Linked DNA regions of Homo sapiens. The protein of the gene in region 3 purifies or fractionates together with the protein of the main gene of each other region. This does not show direct contact. Each region holds a gene or a part of one and is shown on either strand. Other genes may lie near its edges.

The links.
Region 1: the proteins of SMNDC1 (region 3) and U2SURP purify together in Homo sapiens (affinity purification with mass spectrometry; 2 studies listed by BioGRID and IntAct, with this or other methods). This does not show direct contact.
Region 2: the proteins of SMNDC1 (region 3) and SF3A3 purify together in Homo sapiens (affinity purification with mass spectrometry; 3 studies listed by BioGRID and IntAct, with this or other methods). This does not show direct contact.

Annotation. Positions count from the first base shown.
Region 1 is NC_000003.12:142,997,063-143,004,660, reverse strand, and holds the start of U2SURP (U2 snRNP-associated SURP motif-containing protein), read right to left. Parts: upstream 3,092-7,598; 5' UTR 3,033-3,091; coding exon 2,988-3,032; intron 1-2,987.
Region 2 is NC_000001.11:37,965,955-37,973,071, forward strand, and holds part of SF3A3 (splicing factor 3A subunit 3), read right to left. Parts: intron 3,782-7,117; coding exon 3,617-3,781; intron 3,511-3,616; coding exon 3,400-3,510; intron 2,181-3,399; coding exon 2,090-2,180; intron 1-2,089. UniProt on the Homo sapiens protein: Component of the 17S U2 SnRNP complex of the spliceosome, a large ribonucleoprotein complex that removes introns from transcribed pre-mRNAs.
Region 3 is NC_000010.11:110,290,122-110,294,929, reverse strand, and holds the end of SMNDC1 (survival of motor neuron-related-splicing factor 30), read left to right. Parts: intron 1-642; coding exon 643-780; 3' UTR 781-4,200; downstream 4,201-4,808. UniProt on the Homo sapiens protein: Involved in spliceosome assembly.

The DNA.
Region 1 (7,598 bases), on a different chromosome or scaffold from region 3:
AAAGTATCATTTTAAAACTAGAAGCCAGGCACGGTGGCTCACGCCTATAATCCCCGCACTTTGGGAGGCCGAGGCGGGGGGGGGGGGTCACAAGGTCAAGAGGCCAACAGATGAAACCCCATCTCTACTAAAAATACAAAAATTGGCCAGGCGCCTGTAGTCCCAGCTACTCGGGAGGCTGAGGCAGAAGAATTGCTTGAACCCAGGAGGCAGAGGTTGCAGTGAGCTGAGATTGCACCACTGCACTCCAGCCTGGGCGACAAGGCAAGACTCCCTCTCAAAAAAAAAAAAAAAAAAAAAAAAAAAACACCCCAACTAGAAGACCTGTAGAGGTTATCTAATTTAATCTTTTTATAATTAAGAAATGTTAATAATTTTGCCATATTGTACATTTAAAATTAACATTTTCCCAATGTCTAGAAATATAATAAGCATCCCTATCCATATTAACGGGAATGTAACTACCAAAGAAAACGACGAATCATGAAACAGAAGTATCTGTTCACTCCATCTGTATTGTAAAATATAAGCCACTCATCTGTTCTTTCCAGAGGAAAGGAAATCAAACCAGATATCAAAGGCTAGAAATTCTAAATACTGTAGTATTAGCCAAAATGATCTTACAATTTCTCTAATAAATTATGTGTTAGAAATAAAAAGCAGGGAAGCAGGGCGGGGCACGGTGGCTCACGCCTGTAATCCCATCACTTTGGGAGGCTGAGGCGGGTGGATCACGAGGTCAAGAGATCGAGACCATCCTGGCCAACATGGTGAAACCCCGTCTCTACTAAAATACAAAAAATTAGCCGGGCGTACTGGCGGGCGCCTGTAGTCCCAGCTACTAGGGAGGCTGAGGCAGGAGAATCACTTGAACCCGGGAGGCGGAGGTTGCAATGAGCCGAGATTGTGCCACTGCACTCCAGCACTCCAGCCTGGGCGACAGAGCGAAACTCTTTCACAAAAAAAAAAAAAAAAAAAAAAAAGAAATAAAATAAATAAAAAGCAGCTATCTGGGCAGTCATTATGACAGCTGATGACTTAGATTCCAAATCACAGGATTAAAATTTATCCTGACATTTTGAAAGCTAAGAACTTTTGATTTCCTCTAAAAACAAAAAGAGGGGAAAGAAATTAAGATTTATTATGTACTTCATAGACATTATCTCATTTGATCCTTATATCAACCATGTAAAAAAAGAATTATATCTACATTACAAATGAGGGAATTGAGGCTCCAGAGTTTAAGCAATCTGCCTTATTATCGCAAATATAATTAATTACCAAGTCAGGATTTGAACCCAAATCTCTTGTTAACAAAATTCATAATCTTCCCACTACATTATGCAGCCTCCAAATTAGTTAAGATATTCTGATTCCTTTCACAGACATCAGTAAGAAATCTGCTAATAGCATCAAGAGATTATAATCTAAGGCAATATAAACAGAAAAGATTACTGGATAATCCAATAATTTATTTATTGAGAACAGCCATACATTCAGTCATGAGAAGCACTATTTTAGAAGGAAGCCTGAACACAGACATTGAAATGTTTTCAATGTATCCAAGACCTCAAGTAGGGAATACTTAAAATATTACTTTGAGAAGAAACAAAAATTGTGAGGCTTATGCACGACTTGTTATGAACGTAGCTAGCTTTAGTAATAGCTCCCTAACGGTATGTTCTTGTCAGGAGTCTGTTGAGAAGAGTTGGTAGAGCTCGCCCCCAAAGAGAGGGAGACGAGAAAATGTACTGAGGAGGGGGAAAAAAAACTGACACAATACCTTGTAAAGAAGCCGAAACTGGCCCCTCACCAAAGTTTCTATGTAACTAAACGATGTCTGTTAAGACCATTACTAATTATGAATTAATTATTTTGGTGTACATCGTTCACCAAATGGCATAAACAGTCGGATTAGAGAAAGCAAGTAGAAAACGAGTTATGATGTTTCTCAGAACTGTAAACGCAAGCTTCTCTCCTACCGTAAATTTAACTTTCTAATAGCCGATTTACAGTCACACACTCTTTAAGATTTAACAGTCCCTAGCACCTGAAAGTGTTACACAGCTTCTTGCATCAGCATCGGAAAGTTTAACTACCTCGTGGCAGTACCAATTACTTTTAATATATTCGAGACCAGAAACCCAAACCAAAAAACGATTAAATGTCCCGCCCAAGATGGCAACTAAGAACCCAACCGTACTAATGCTTAACTACTACCACAGCTCACTGGTTTCACAATACGTGCCCAGGGTTCCCTGTAAACACAAATGCAATTTACTAATCGTATGTAGCTTACAAGTCTACGGAGCTTCTCTTTTCACTGTTTCTTCAACATAAAGAAAGAGACCACGAGTCCTCTACCCTCAAAAGTGCTTTTTACTTCCCGTTAAGGTAAAGACCACGTGTAGACTGTACATTAACCTTGGCTATGCAGCACTGCAAAGGAGAGCTGCTCCCGCCTCTGCATTTCCCACTCCGTGTCTTTGCCCTAGTGGTCCTCCCCTCACAGCTGGCGACCCTAGAGGTTATTCATTCCTTGGAGGGAAACTGAGGGAGGCCGGAAGTGAGTGAGATCCAAAACCGAGAAAAAAGCAGCAGACATTTAAGCACCGGGAAGCGATTCCCGCCTCTCTCCCAGGCGCTGTCTGGCGGCCTCAGGGCGCAGGAAGCTGAGATACAGGAGAGCGTTTTCACTGCTTCAGACCTCAATCTGAATTCCTGATTTCACTCCAATGCCAAGCGCGGGCCGAAGCACTCACGCCTCCACCCACTGGGCACGCCAGTCTCGAGCTGAATCCCGGCTGGGACTATGGGGAGATACCAGGCCTCTCAACCTGCGCACAACGGTGCGGCGGCGCCCGGGCCTACCGTCGCGACTAGAATGCAGACCCCAATCCCAATCGCCTCTCACAGGCCAGAAGCGTCTGTGGGCCCCAAACGACAGTGGTAGATCCGCTGACTTACGAAATTTTGTCAGAAATTACCTTTGAACTGGCCTTCTGAGATCCGCCTGGCGTTTTGTCCGCCATCTTGAGCTTTGCCCCTCCTTCGGCGGCGGCAGCAGCACGGGCGAGTCGAGCACCGAAAGAGCGGATCTCAGTGAAGCCCGCCAGAGGCGCCTGCAAGGCTGAATAGTCGACTGTCGAGATAGCGACCTTAGGGGCAGCCGCTCACGTGACTTCCGGTGTCAGTAATTTCCTCAGCCGCGCTCACTCCGCTAGTTTTCCTGGGAGTCACGGTGCTTGGTCGCGTTATTGGGTCCGGGAATTCAGAGAATCAGGGCCAGCTGATACTTCACCCTCTTATCCCAACGCCAACCCTTGATAGATGCGAACCAGTCGTATTTCCTTTGTGGGAAAGGAGTCGCTTTTTAAAGACGTGCACTGGCCATCTAGGGAGGAGCTTTTACTTCAACTCAAAATAGGACTGGAGCTGACTGGTGACCTGGCGCTCGATGGACGGAAACGCTGTTCTTGCCGCTTCGGCAGCTCCCATACTGGTGGGAGAGGCAAACTTGCAGTCTGCTCATCTTAAGATGGTGAATGTTGAGATAGGGTTGCTCCCGAAAAGCCGAGAAGAGGAGCCGTTTGACCCAACTTGAGGGTGATCCGATAGACACTCTTTAGGGCGTCTGCAGAGTGGGTGCGCGTGGAGACAGTCAATAAGAGAAAATCGTAAATACAGATGGTATTCTAAATCTAGCATGCATGTAAAGTTGTGTGACATTTTAAAGATTACATTTTACACTTTAGTATTGTTTTCATTTTTAATCACATAAATGGGGGAACACCATATTAAACTTTTCTGAACTTAGTACTTTTTTAAAAAGTTCTTAATCAGGGCCTAGATTCAAAGACGGAAAGCTTGCTTGAGAAGGCCATGCCCGAATCAGGCCAGGCAAGGAAAGAAAGGACATTCCAGACAGAGGGAGTAATTGAGGTAAAAGCCTGTGGCATGAATCAGTACAGCCGATCGTGCAGGTCACCTAAAGCAGTCGTTTTATTAGACCAGGTGTGGGGAGGGACGTGGTTGGACAGGGGTGCGGGTGCAGGTTCACACAGCGCCCTGAGGTCACCATCGTGCTTAGGAGTTAGAATTCTGTTCTCAGAATGAAGATCGGCCTTTAACAAGGTTGAAATGGTCAGATTTTTATTTTAAAGTATTGCTCTGAGGACTAGGGTGGGAGTGGAGGGCGTTTGTGGACCTCTCCCTAAATCATTTATTCAAAATATTTTTGAGCCCCGTTTTGTGTGTAAAAGCCTGCCCAAAGTGTTGTAGGGCTTACAGAGACAGACAAACATGCACTGTCTTCATATGATTTAAAACTTAATGAGAAATGGAGGAGACAAGGAAACCGCAAACTGACACTATGCATAATTAAATTGATGCTGCAAGGAAGGATCAATAGCTGAGGGACCTCTGAAAGAAGTAATTAATTCTGAGAGTAGGAGTGAGGAAAAGAGACGGGGCGGGGCAGGGGGGGGGGTGGTCATAGAGAAGAAAGCATTTGAACCAGCTCTGAAGAAGTAGAATTTTGTTGAATGGCGGGGGTGGGGAGCGAGGGAAGCACTTAGAACAGGATCTGACACAAGGCTGGCTCTCAAGAAAGATTAACAGACATATATGCCAGCCACTAAGGAATCAGCAGGCCAGGCCTCCTATTCTCTGTGAGGGTATGAGGGTAGAAGAACAGACAGTAAACAAGAAATGATCTGAAAGTGACAAGTGCTACACATGAAATTAGAATGACTTGCACCCTCCAACCCAATTCAATTTACTTCTACTGCTGGATTCTGTCATACTTTTTCAGTTCTGGGCCTCTTCCCTCAACCTTGCCCTGCCCTCTCATTGAAGTCTAATCCAATTCTACTCTGGGTGAAGATGTCCCTTCCTCCAGGAAGGCTTACAGTCCTCCCTCCCCACCAATCCTAAATCAGAGACCCTTCTGTTTCCAAGGAACCTATACTTTACCACTTTGAAGAGCTCAGCACACTAGATCTTAACAGGGTTTTGTTTTGTTTTGTTTGTTTTGAGACGTCTCGCTCTGTCGCCTAGGCTGGAGTGCAGTGGCGTGATCTCGGCTCACTGCAAGCTCCGCCTCCTGGGTTCATGCCATTCTCCTGCCACAGCCTCCCGAGTAGCTGGGACTATAGGCGCCCGCCACCACGCTCGGGTAATTTTTTGTATTTTCAGTAGAGACGGGGTTTCACCATGTTAATCAGGATGGTCTCCATCTCCTGACCTCGTGATCCACCCACCTCGGCCTCCCAAAGTGCTGGGATTACAGGCGTGAGCCACCGCGCCCAGCCTAGATCTTAACTGTTTATAGGATTAGAAAGTGAAATCATCAGCTGAGATGAAGAGGAGAAGTGGGACTGGGTATGCCTTGTGGTGTTCTGACAATGCCACAGGCTGATTTTGTCACTAGAAAGTGAATATGTGTAGCTTTTCAGTCAAATCCCCAAAGTCCTACTTATTTTAAAAATAATTTTTACTAAATACTCCTGAAGAGTCAAAAACAAAAGAATGCAGACTTCTTTCCTCTCTTCTTTTTTATATTGTAAGCCCCAAAGCAAGTCAGACAAATATGATGTGACTAGAAATAATACGGGCCTTTATTAAGGGTTAAGTACGCTTTTAAAAATTCAAAATCATTGCCAGGCACAGTGGCTCAGGCTTGTACTCCTAGCACTTTGGGAGGCCAAGGCGGGCAGATCAAGGCAGGCAGATGGCTTGAACCCATGAGTTCGAGACCAGCCTGGGCAACATGGCAAAACCTTATTTCTACAAAAAAATATTTAAAAATCAGCCAGATGTGGTGGCATGCATCTGTAGTCCCAGATAGGAGGCTGAAGTGGGAGGACCACCAGAGCACTGGGAATCTTGCCATTGCACTCCAGTCTGGGCAACAGAGTGACCCTATCTCAGGAAAAAAAAAAAAAAATTGAACATCACAATTATGAGTAAGAATTCTTGATACGTGAAATTCTGGCCCTATTACGTCATGAAATTCTGGCCCTATTACTCAAATTACAAATTCAGGAAAGTGAAATAGCATGAAAATAATCCAAATGGAATTTTATGGAATCTGAATAATTAGATTAGTGCTAAGGGACTACACATAAACAGTAAGAATCATGCAATTTACTGCAACTAGTATTACCTTTTTACAATTACAGTAAAACCATGCCATTTTTCTCTTCCCGATGTGTTGATTTTCTGGTGCCCACACCTGCCATTTGTTTTTAAGGCTTCTCCCTGCAGCAGATACGTTCAAGAGAAATTACAAAGTAGTGCCATATACAATACTGAGATGTTTTGTTTGGTTCATTCAGGGAGATTTTTTCTTTGAAATTTGAGCTAGCATTTTAAAACAGAGAGATTTTACATAAAACTCAGGGTTTCTAGCCTTTCTTGAAAAATGGGGAAGTCTGGCAACACTGGGGGACAATCCAGGTGAGGTGGCCTGCAGCGACTTCTAGGGAAGGGGGCTATGAACACCAGTTTAGCCACCAACTCATCATACACGGTGGACAAATTCCCCATACCCAGCCTGCTTGTAGGCATTTCAGTTTTCTACTTCTGATGTACAGTGTAATACTTACCTGGGGTGATGATCAAAACATTACCAACCAGTTCCCCCAGGCACCAGCCAGAACTGACTTGTTAGTAAGGTACAGGAGACTCAGTGCCTAGGGCTCACAATAATTTTTAGACCTCCCCACCAAAAATGTTTTGATTTCTTTAAGGAGGAAAAAAGTGGAGTGGAGAAAGTATTTAACAATACAAACAGCTGTGGAACCTGTGCATGCTGAAAGATAGAGACCTTAAAAAATGATTGCCCCAAAGCTACAGCCTCCTGTATTGTGCCAATGGACTGCTCCTACTTGGTGGCATTTTCATTCTAGACAGTTTTTAAACAGTTTTTCCCTGCTCTCTGGGTTTCAGGATATAGGCTGGTAAAAGGAACACTCCATTTGCTTCTTTGGCATTTATTGAGTTTCTAGCTTGTGCTAGGCTCTGAAGAAAGAAGATAAAAGGAGAGACAACTAAAAATCAGACTTAATGTCTTCTGCTAAGACAGATCCTAGCTGCTTCTAGGAATAATTAGGAAACAGCCTTCACGGAGGTGTGGTCAGTGTGGAATGGAAAATTCCTTCTGCTGCACTTGACTGCCTGCCCCACACCCACCCCACAACGTAAGTGTTATGAATAAGGTTTTAGTAGCAACAGCAGCTGCTCCCCCTTTCTCACACACACAAAAATTACCTGACTCACTTATTGATTATATACAGATTCCTTTGACAATAATAATTAGCAGTGGCAGCCAGGCGCAGTGGCTCACGCCTGTAATCCTAGCACTTTGGGAGGCCAAGGCAGGTGGATTGCCTGAGCTCAGGAATTTGAGACCAGCGTGGGCAACATGGTGAAACCCCTTCTCTACTAAAATACAAAAGAAATTAGCTGGGCATGGCAGCGTGCACCTGTAGTCCCAGCTACTCAGGAGGCTGAGGCAGGAGAAATGCTTGAACCCAGGAGGCAGAGGTTGCAGTGAGCTGAGATCACACCACTGCACTCCAGCCTGGGCAACAAAG
Region 2 (7,117 bases), on a different chromosome or scaffold from region 3:
CTTTGGGAAGCCAAGGCAGGTAGGTCACCTGAGATCAGGAGTTTGAGACCAGCCTGGCCAACATGCTAAAACCCCGTCTCTACTAAAAATACAAAAAAATTAGCCAGGCGTGGTGGCGAGCGCTTGTAATTCCAGCTACTCGGGAGGCTGAGGCAGGAGAATCGCTTGGAACCAGGAGGTGGAGGTTGCAGTGAGCTGAGATCACGCTACTGCACTCCAGCTTGGGTGACAGAGCAAGACTCTGTCTCAAAAAAATAAATAAATAAATTAATTAATTAAATTAAATTAAAAAAAAAGAAGAAAAGAAAAGGCTGCCATGAAAATGTTAATGGCAGAGAAAGCTACTACTGCTGGGAAAACAGGAAGCCTGGCGGTGGTCCTCTATGTGCTTCAGCAGCACATTCCCTGACATGCACTCCGCTTCACTTTCTTCAAGAGGTATTTTGCTGCTGTGTTTCTATAGCCTCTAACACAAGCTTACTGAGGGTACTTCTATATTTTCCTTTATATCAGTCATTATTTAACACATTAAAATCAATTCAGAAAACTATCCATACAACCATTCAATCAAAATCTTGCATAAAAGGGAGTTCACAGACCCAGGCTAAAAGCCCTGGTTTATACTCAGCACAGAGCTCTTCTCAAAGGAGAAACAATCAGTATTGCCGACTAATTCATTTCTCTTAAAAATGCAATAATTAGCTGGGCACGGTGGATCACGCCTGTAATCGCAGCACTTTGGGAGGCCGAGGTGGGCAGATCACCTGAGGTCAGGAGTTCAAGACCAGCCTGACCAACATGGAGAAACCCGTCTCTACTAAAAGTACAAAATTAGCCAGGCATGGTGGCGCATACTTGTAATCCCAGCTACTCGGGAGGCTGAGGCAGGAGAATCGCTTGAACCCAGGAGGCACAGGTTGCAGTGAGCCGAGATCGCACCATTGCACTCCAGCCTGGGCAATATGAGCGAAACTCCATCTCAAAAAAAAAAAAAAAAAAAAAAAAAATGCAATAATTAGGCGCGGTGGCTCACGCCTGTTATCCCAGCACTTTGGGAGGCCAACATGGGTGGATCACTTGAGGTCAGGAGTTCGTCACCTCAACCAGCCTGGCCAACATGATGAAAGCCCATCTCTACTAAAAATAGAAAAATTAGCTGGGCATGGTGGCACATGCCTGTAATCCCAGGTACTAGGGAGGCTGAGGCAGGAGAATTGCTTGAGCCCAGGAGACGGAGGTTGCAGGAGCCAAGATCGTGCCACTGCACTCCAGCCTGGTGACAGAGTGAGACTCGTCTCAGAAACAAAGGCTGGGCATGGTGGCTCACGCCTATAATCCCAGCACTTTGGGAGGCTGAAGTGGGCGGATCACCTGAGGTCGGGAGTTCAAGGCCATCCTGGCTCACACAGTGAAACCCCGTCTCTACTAAAAATACAAAAAATTAGCCAGGTGTGGCGGCTCATGCCTGTAATCCCAGCACTTTGGGAGGCCAAGGCGGGCGGATCATGAGGTCAGGAGATCAAGACCATCCTGGCTAACACTGTGAAACCCTGTCTCTACTAAAAACACAAAAAATTAGCCAAGTGTGGTGGCGGGCGCCTGTAGTCCCAGCTACCGGGAGGCTGAGGCAGGAGAATGGCATGAACCCAGGAGGTGGAACTTGCAGTGAGCCGAGATCATGCCACTGCACTCCAACCTGGGCGACAGAGTGAGACTCCGTCACAAAAAAAAAAAAAAAAAAAAAAAAAAAAAAAAATTAGCCAGGTGTGGTGGCACGTGCCTGTAGTCCCAGCTACTCGGTAGGCTGAGGCAGGAGAATCGCTTGCGCCCGGGAGGCAGAGGTTGCAGTGGGCCAAGACTGCACCATTACACTCCAGCCTGGCGACAGAGCGAGACTCCATCCATCTCAAAACAAAACAAAAAAACACAAAACAAAAAACAGAAATGCAATAATTATACAACTGTCCTAGATTTTACATATCCACAACCTACTGCCTTTAACCCTGGATACACAGGGTATTAGGATGCTGAATTGAAGGAGTAGAGCCATTTGTACTCGCCTAGGAGACAGTAAATAAATCTTACTTACAGGAGACAGCATCTTCAATCTGTGTCACATTAGCAAAGTGAGCAGTGTTTGGGATGCCCAAACACCTCATGCCATGAGCATGACGCCATTCCTGGGAGAAGAGAGAAGCAAAAGGATCATGTGAAATGGGAATAGCTGAACACAGAGCACTAACTCCATTCTACTCATAAATCCTAACATGGCCCTTTGCAAGACTCCACCTAAAGGTAGCATTCCTTTTGTGATTCATGTTTGTAAACAGCTGGCTGTGACTGACAAAAGGGTGGTATTTCAAAGCAGCACTGCATTGTTTGCCTCACTGGGTTGGCTTGTAAACCTAGATTCTAGACCCAGTAGTCTTATACATAAAACCTCTGGGTCAAGATCACAGAAAAACATCACAACTCTCACTACATCTCCCATATTGCAGGAGAACTTACCAAAGCCCCAGCAACTCCAAACACCTGCATGAATAGGGGTTACTAATGGCAGGTCAGCATCATCTTTGTAGGTAAAGGAGAAGACTTTTATTAGGCACAATGATGTGGTGAGGAGAGAGCAGGGAGATTATACACTGACATGATGGCAGTTTTAACTAAGGGATGGTAAATGGCATGGGCTTTATCCTGGATGCCAACTCCAATCATTGTAGGAGGTGCTGAGAAGGATTCAGAACTCACTCATGGGCTCAGCAAAAAAGACCCATTATCAATTAGTAATATGTATGACTCAGAGAGGGGGAGAGGAGTTCATATAAATTTGTCATCCTTGGTCTAGCATAAATGTTTTCCTTTCTGTAAAATTTCCTTCCAAAATCTAAGAACTCTAAGTAGAGCCCACTTAGAGGTGAGCCCACTTACAGCAGTATCATCCGGACAATACCCTGTCTCAAGAATGGCTTGATAAATATCAGCCCCTTCATTTTTTATTTTCTCAAGAGGCAAAGATCCATTTAAGATCTGAAAGAGATCAGTCAGCCCTATTTTTTATCTTGAGTATTAGCAATGGGGTAGAGAAATAACCAAGAAGTCAGAAATTGGTCTAAAATGCTAGCAGAAAGACAAAAACAGAGAAGTTTAAGAGCAGGCAAGAGAAAACCAAATAAGGTTCAAAGAGTGGTGCGGTAGAATTCCTCCAGAAACTATCTCAGGTATTTAAGACTAACATTGGTGCCAAAAGTCAAATGCCATGGGCTTGATTTTAAAACCATCCTTCTCTGATTCCCTTCAGCTCTGGACACCAGTGGTCCACATAGGCTGCTCCTACTCTTTTCTCTAAAAGTCTCATGTTTTTACTTCAATTCCCAGGAAAAATGGCTCTGAATTCCTTACAGCAAAGTGTCGCTGGAAGGCTTTGGGCCCTCGGTAGGTGTAGTTTCCACAAATCTCACAGTTGTAGTTGATATTTAGGCCATGAAGCTTATACAGCCAGTAGGGAATAGGCTAAAAAAGAAAAAAACAAAACAAAACCAAGAAGTGTTAGCCTACTAAACTCTGTATCTGTTTCCAAAATGGGGAATGGGGAGAAAGTGGTAGTGCTGAGACTTACTTTGCCATCCCAGCCAAGTGGCAGGTTTTTGGGGTTGTAAATGATCTCGTTCTCTTCATCTTCACTCTCACTCTCACTGATCTGCTCTTCTTCCTCTTCTTCTCGCTCTTCTCCTGTCCTGGCTTGCTTGCGCTGTACATTTTCATGAGTGAGATGTCGCTGTTCCTAAAGCAGGTCCATAAATGAAAAGTCAGAAAAAAGTAGTGCAGAATAAGAAGGGAAATTTCCTGTTTTCCTGTAACTTTTGCTGACCCCTTACTTCCAAGGATAAGGTTCTTTCTTACAGAATAAAGGAAAATCTTGCCTTCATATCAGAACTCCTTATCAGCAGGCTCTACCTGATCCCAAAGAAAAGAGTCAAAGGTTTTACATCACTTGCCTAATTACTCATCTGAGGCTATTATAGAACAACAGAAAACAGTCTCATCTATTCTGACTCTAAAATATTTCCTGGCTGGGTGTGGTGGCTCACGCCTGTAATCCCATCACTTTTGGAGGCTGGGGTGGGAGAATCACTTGAGGCCAGGAGTTTGACATCAGCCTGGGCAACACAATGGGATCTCATCTCTACAAAACATTTACAAATTGGCTAGGCATGGAGGTGTGCACCTGTGATCCCAGCTCTTTAGGAGGCTGAGTTAGGAGGACTGCTTGAGCCCAGGAGTTTGAGGATGCAGTGAGCTCTGATCCCGCCACTGCACTCCAGCCTGGGCGACAGAGTGAGACTCCTTCTCAAAAAAAAAAAAAAAAAATATGCACACAATACAGGAGCACCCAGATTCATAAAGCAAGTCCTCAGAGACCTACAAAGAGACTTAGACTCCCACACAATAATAATGGGAAACTTTAACACCCCACTGTCAACATTAGACAGATCAACGAGACAAAGTTAACAAGGATATCCAGGAATTGAACTCAGCTCTGCACCAAGCGGACCTAATAGACATCTACAGAACTCTCCACCCCAAATCAACAGAATATACATTCTTCTCAGCACCACATCACACTTATTCCAAAATTGACCACATAGTTGGAAGTAAAGCACTCCTCAGCAAATGTAAAAGAACAGAAATTATAACAAACTGTCTCTCAGACGACAGTGCAGTCAAACTAGAACTCAGGATTAAGAAACTCACTCAAAACCGCTCAACTACATGGAAACTGAACAACCTGCTCCTGAATGACTACTGGATAAATAACGAAATGAAGGCAGAAATAAAGTGTTCTTGGAAACCAATGAGCACAAAGACACAACATACCAGAATCTCTGGGACGCATTTAAAGCAGCGTGTAAAGGGAAATTTATAGCACTAAATGTCCACAAAAGAAAGCAGGAAAGATCTAAAACTGACACCCTAACATCACAATTAAAAGAACTAGAGAAGCAAGAGCAAACACATTCAAAAGCTAGCAGAAGGCAAGAAATAATTAAGATCAGAGGAGAAGTGAAGGAGACAGACACACAAAAAAACCCTTCAAAAAAAATCAATGAATCCAGGAGCTGGTTTTTTGAAAAGATCAACAAAATTGATAAGACCGCTAGCAAGACTAATAAAGAAGAGAGAAGAATCAAACAGACGCAATAAAAAACGAAAAAGGAGATATCAACACCGATCCCACAGAAATACAAACTACCATCAGAGAATACTATAAACACCTCTACACAAACAAACTAGAAAATCTAGAAGAAATGGATAAATTCCTGGACACATACACCCTCCCAAGACTAAACCAGGAAGAAGTTGAATCCCTGAATAGACCAATAACAGGTTCTGAAACTGAGGCAATAATTAATAGCCTACCAACCAAAAAAAAGTCCAGGACCAGACGGATTCACAGCCGAGTTCTACCAGAGGTACAAAAAGAGCTGGTACCATTCCTTCTGAAACTATTCTAATCAATAGGAAAAGAGGGAATCCTCCCTAACTCATTTTATGAGGCCAACATCATCCTGATACCAAAGCCTGGCAGAGACCACAACAAAAAAAAGAGAATTTTAGACAATATCCCTGATGAACATCGATCCAAAAATCCTCAATAAAATACTGGCAAACTGAATCCAGCAGCACATCAAAAACTTATCCACCATGATCAAGTTGGCTTCATCCCTGTGATGCAAGGCTGGTTCAACATACGCAAATCAATAAACGTAATCCATCATATAAACAGAACCAAAGACAAAAACCACATGATTATCTCAATAGATGCAGAAAAGGCCTTTGACAAAATTCAACAGCCCTTCATGCTAAAAACTCTCAATAAACTAGGTATTAATAGGATGTTTCTCAAAATAATAAGAGCCATTTATGACAAACCCACAGCCAATATCATACTGAATGGGCAAAAACTGGAAGCATTCCCTTTGAAAACTGGCACAAGACAGGGATGCCCTTTCTCACCACTCCAATTCAACATAGTGTTGGAAGTTCCGGCCAGGGCAATCAGGCAGGAGAAAGAAATAAAGGGTATTCAATTAGGAAAAAAGGAAGTCAAATTGTCCCTGTTTGCAGATGACATGATTGTACATTTAGAAAACTCCATTGTCTCAGCCCAAAATCTCCTTAAGCTGATAAGCAACTTCAGCAAAGTCTCAGGATACAAAATCATGTGCAAAAATCACAAGCATTCTTATACACCAATAACAGATAAACGGAGAGCCAAATCATGAGTGAACTCCCCTTCACAATTCCTTCAAAGAGAATAAAATACCTAGGAATCCAGCTTACAAGGGATGTGAAGGACCTCTTCAAGGAGAACTACAAACCACTGCTCAACGAAATGAAAGAGGACACAAAGAAATGGAAGAACATTCCATGCTCATGGATAGGAAGAATCAATATTGTGAAAATGGCCATACTGCCCAAGGTAATTTATAGACTCAATGCCATCCCCATCAAGCTACCAATGACTTCACAAGCTTACCAATTTCTTCACAGAATTGGAAAAAACTACTTGAAAGTTCACATGGAACCAAAAAAGAGCCTGCCTTGCCAAGACAATCCTAAGCCAAAAGAACAAAGCTGGAGGCATCACGCTATCTGACTTCAAACTATACTACAAGGCTACAGTAACCAAAACAGCATGGTACTGGTATCAAAACAGAGATATAGACCAATGGAACAGAACGGAGTCCTTGGAAATAGTATGACACATCTACAACCATCTGATCTTTGACAAACCTGACAAAAACAAGAAATGGGGAAAGGATTCCCTATTTAATAAATGGTGCTGGGAAAACTGGCTAGACATATGTAGAAAGCTGAAACTGGATTCCTTCCTTACACCCTATACAAAAATTAATTCAAGATGGATTAAAGACTTAAATGTGGGCCGGGTGCGGTGGCTCACGCCTGTAATCCCAGCACTTTGGGAGGCCAAGGTGGGTGGATCACCTGAGGTCGGGAGTTCGAGATCAGCCTGGCTAACATGGTGAAACCCTGTCTCACTAAATACACAAAATTAACTGGGCATGGTGGCACATGCTTGTAGTCCCAGCTACTC
Region 3 (4,808 bases):
CTGCTTTGTTAACATGCCTTCATGCTGGGCATCACTGGTAGATTTTATTTAAAAGTGCATTCAGTTTCCCTTGATACACTTACCTTGTGTGTGTTGGGTAGAAAATAACTGTAGCATTCATATAGGAAGTTGAGAATAAGGATAACCTGACTTTCACCCATGTGTTACTCTTCACTGCCATCAAGGTAGCCCTTCCATTGATGGACATGGCTTCTGGAAAGAAGCGCTTCCTTTTCATAAAGATGTTTATTTTGTGACAAAGGCCAAGGGACTTCACAATTTGGCTATCATAACAGGCCCCACAGTAAACCACAATACAGCCAGAGCTTTAATCATGCTAGAATGGCTAGCTCACAGCTGAAGTTAGGATTTGCGTTTACAAAACTAAAATTTTGACGTATCAGAAGGCAAGTGTTATGAGTATTAGTAAATGTAATGATATTTTCCACAACTTAGAAGTTACAGTAAATGGCTTCCAGCATGGGACCACTTCTGTACCCATTTTTTAACACTAAACAAAGGCAATATGTTTTTCTTCTTTTAAACGTTGAAACCAGAATATATTTTAACATTACTTAAAATTTGAAATTTTTTATTTTTTCCAACACTAATCAGGAATGATTTCTGTTTTCTTTCCCTTAGGTAAAGAGGAGTATTTTTGCTTCACCTGAGAGTGTGACTGGTAAAGTTGGAGTAGGAACCTGTGGAATTGCTGATAAACCTATGACACAATATCAAGATACCTCTAAATACAATGTCAGGCATTTGATGCCTCAATAATCAGAAAAACTGTTGGATTTCATCTCTGCAGGGCTTTACATTTACCTTTTTATCCTTATATTTTTCTAAAGGTAAATTATTTGTTAGATGAGTAAGCAAGATACCATTGTCGTCATTGGTTGGCTTCAGTAGAATGAAACGTGAAGAAATTGCATTTGATAACTGCTATTCATTTAACTTTTCTCATTATCAGTACCACGGTTCCCTCAAAGTTTGTTGAATAAAGCAACTTTTGTAGATGCTGTTTCATACAGCACTTAGATGAATTATTGATCTTCCTAATATCAGGCGCCTACTTAACCTATGGTGTGTACTTTTTGTAAGTTGTAACTTGAAATTTTCAGATGCTTTGAACTTGACACATACTCTAGCAATTCATTGGAACACCAAGGCAAAAACACCAACCTGCTAAAAGAGATCTTTTCATTTTTCTTATTTTCAGCTTTAAAACTTAGCTGTCGTTCAGTTAAGCTTAAAGATAGGTTAATTTGTAAATGGCAAAGTTTGTTTTGAGGTTTTTCCTCAATAACTTGTTTCCCAGGCCTATTAGGCCATCTCTAAAATTGATCTAGCTGTTTTATTTTTATGTACTCTTAGTTTTATGTAAGAAACCTTAGGATGAGCTCCCTTTTCTAAGGTGTTTTTGTTTTTTGTATGTTTGCTTTTTTCCTGTTTTTTGTTTTTTCCATTTACGGCAGTGGTACCATGTTTTGGATGTGTGATGTTTATATGGGAGAACAAAAAGCTGATGTATAGCCCTGTATACAGTGTAGATACTATTTTTGTAAAAACACAAGGCTAAATTAATGAACAAGAATACTGAATATTTCATCATTAAAAATTTCTTGTATTTCTTGTGCATTAATCTGACGATAATTTCCCTGTATATTATGTTCATTTAGCTGTTTGTAATTTTTGTTAATTAGATCAGGTTGTCTGCATTTGTTGGTGTAAGTGAACATCATCACAGTTATCCTGAGTTGAGTTTAAGCCAAATACATGCATAGAAAAGGGTCTTCCTATTAATGGAAGAAGGTAATTTTTAGGATGTGTATTATTTCAGTTTTGTATGTTTAACTTTTATTAAATAAAGTGTTTTTAAAATCTCCAGGGTGTGTTAACAAAAGGGTAAAGTCTTTAGCTGTCAGCACTTAAAGCAATTAAACCTCCAAGTACTTGCACACGGCATTCATGCAAGAGAATACTGAGTGTGTGAGAGGTTTCAGTAAATGCTTAAGTATTCCTTCCATTAGAAGAAATTGGATCTTAAAGGGCAAACCAGGCCTGTGTTTATAGGATGTCCTCATTTTAATGGGTGTTTGTAGATTTTTGGTGGAAGGGGAAAATAAGTTTTTATTTCATGAATTTTAATTTTTTTTATAAATTGAAACTTAGGACAGTGGTAGGTAGAATTCTTCATCTCTCCCTTCCACACCCACCCCTCTCAACCCAGGAGGGTCACTTTTTCTTCATATAATTCGTGGCCACAGGGTAGGACACAAAGGACAGAAAGGCACAAACTGCAGTAGAAAAAGGGTTTGTTGAAGCCTGTAAACTTCTAAATAAAATATACTTTGTTATTGTAACATCTTAAGAGCTTATCAATAATCAAGAGTAGCCTTGATGGATTGCAAGAGAATCCTTTGAATTAAAAAGCACTGGGAAGAAATTTGGTGTCATTGTGTGACCCCAGAAAATGGTTGTTGAGATTACCTTGGTGGTATTAGAATAGTAATTCACTTGATGTTTGTGTAGGCAGGACTGTTAACAGTCTTGTCCCTCTTTTGACCCTGGGGGGCCTTAGTTTTCCCAGAGGACTTTGCAGTAGGAGAGAGAAAAAGAATAAAAGTGACCTTAAAAAAAAATGTTTTGAAAATAGACCTTTAGAATGAAATCAGCAACCTTTGTGTCAAAGATCTAGATGTGGCCCTTTGGAAAATCCTAGTGTCAGGATGATGTTTGTGTCTCTGAACTAAGAGGCAGGACTCCTGGGGAGACTACCTGTCACAGTGTGATACTGAATTTGAGAAGATGCTCAATGAGAAGCATGATACCCACAGTATTTTACAGTTGAAGGTGGTTAAGCTCTCTATATTCTGAAACAAAATATAAACCTTGACCTTAAAAAGCTTTGTTAGAAAATTTAATGTAGAGTTTTCCCCATTAAGAAAGGAGACTTGAAGCTTTGAAACTGTGACAGACTGAAATGTTAAATATTGAGTTATGGGCCCCTAAGTAGAAATGGTTGCATGTAACTTACCAAAGCTTGACGTTTGACTGTTGTTACCATTTCAAGGAAAGAACAGTCCTAACCTCCCGAAAATAAAATGTTGAGTTTTAGTGGTAATCACAGGTAACAAGTGCTATTTTAATTAACATGTAGGGAGGCCACAGAGCATACTGGAAAACAGCAAGGACTCTAGAGCCAGACTAGTGTTTGTTTATTACCATTTATTACCTGTGTATTCCCATTTATTACCTGTGTATTCCTCTGATTCATTTTTCTCAGCTGTAGAATGGAAAAATCTGTTTCAGTTTTAAGGATTGAATTCAAATGTGTAAATAGCTTAAGAGTATCCGGCATAAGCACTATAGAAGCGTCTGCTATTACTCTGCAGAGTGGCAGTGGTGAATTATCTGATATTTTTTCCTTAACTTGAATAGCAATCCACATTACAATGGATAACAATACCCATTGTTTATGATTTGAGGCATCCAATTATAACTGTATTATTGAAGTGTTATCAAATTACCAAGGCTGTAGGGTATATTTAGTATTCCTAGTTAAAGGTTTGAACTAATTTGTATACTAGGGCATGTTTCTTAATGGGAAGGGGGTGAAGGTTATAATAAAAGTCACCCCTAATGCTTGTTTAAAATTAAAGAGGAATTTGTGGGCCTGGGACCAACCTTAGACTTATCCAGGCCAAGGTATGTTGTTTGACGAACACCGCAGGTGATCCTGATGTGCATCCCCGTCTGAGAACTGTTAACTATAAAAGTTTGACTTTGGAAATGAAGAAAAATTACCTTTTAGCCTAATCATGAAGACTAGGCGTCAAACCAAAACAAGATGCATCAGTTACTGTAGCAACACATTTTTTTTAAAAAATTGCTTGTTGTCACAATGAAGGGTGTGTGTCTGTTTCCAGTATGCAATTCTAATGCCAAATGTCTGCCTTAAAAATAGCAAAGGAGACCATCAGGTTAACATAAAGGAAAACTGTAGTTGTGTGACTCATGTGTCTGTAGATTGTAATTTTATAATTACAATTTTTATAAGATAAAAAACTACCAGTTGTAAATTCAACCAAAAAAAATTTAAAGCTTTGATTTAGCTTTTTGCTTTAACTTGGGTAGTAACTGAAATATAAAGGAAGAAAATCTATTAAAACCAATGAGGTTTTATATTTTTTTAAATCTTGATTCAATAAATATCAGCTGAATTAAGTATCTGTATGGTACTACGAAGCAATCAATTAGTATAAATGGCAATTTACAAGTTCAACAGTAAATGTAAACATTCTTTGTATCTAGGATTTTTGAGTTGCAAGTTAAACTGAATTTTTACTGCAGTAGAGAGGAGGAGCATAGCAGGCAAAATAACAGGTAATACTGTATTTTAAACAAACAGAAAAACCCAAGTAATTGGCGCCCTTTATCCAATCATCTTTTAAAAGGCCTATGTATGTGTATAGTTATGTTCTTAAGAAACATCTTAAGAGGTTCAGAAATCAATTTTATAGATGGAACATTTTAATAATTCGTTTTGGCCTAGCCAAAAGAGTAAAATAAAACAAAATAGTGTTAGATTTCTGTGAGGTGTTTTAATTGCCTTTTCTGCCTTTTAACTTATGTATATAAAGGTGGTTCTTTTGTGGCCTTGATTGGGGTAAAGCAGAACTGAGAATAATAGGGGTTTGTAGTAGTTGACAGCTGAACTAGCTAAAAATACGAAGTTTTGGATATTTAATTAATCTTTCAGTTCCCAGGCAACAAAAACTGGAAACTTAGTTCCACCACACACC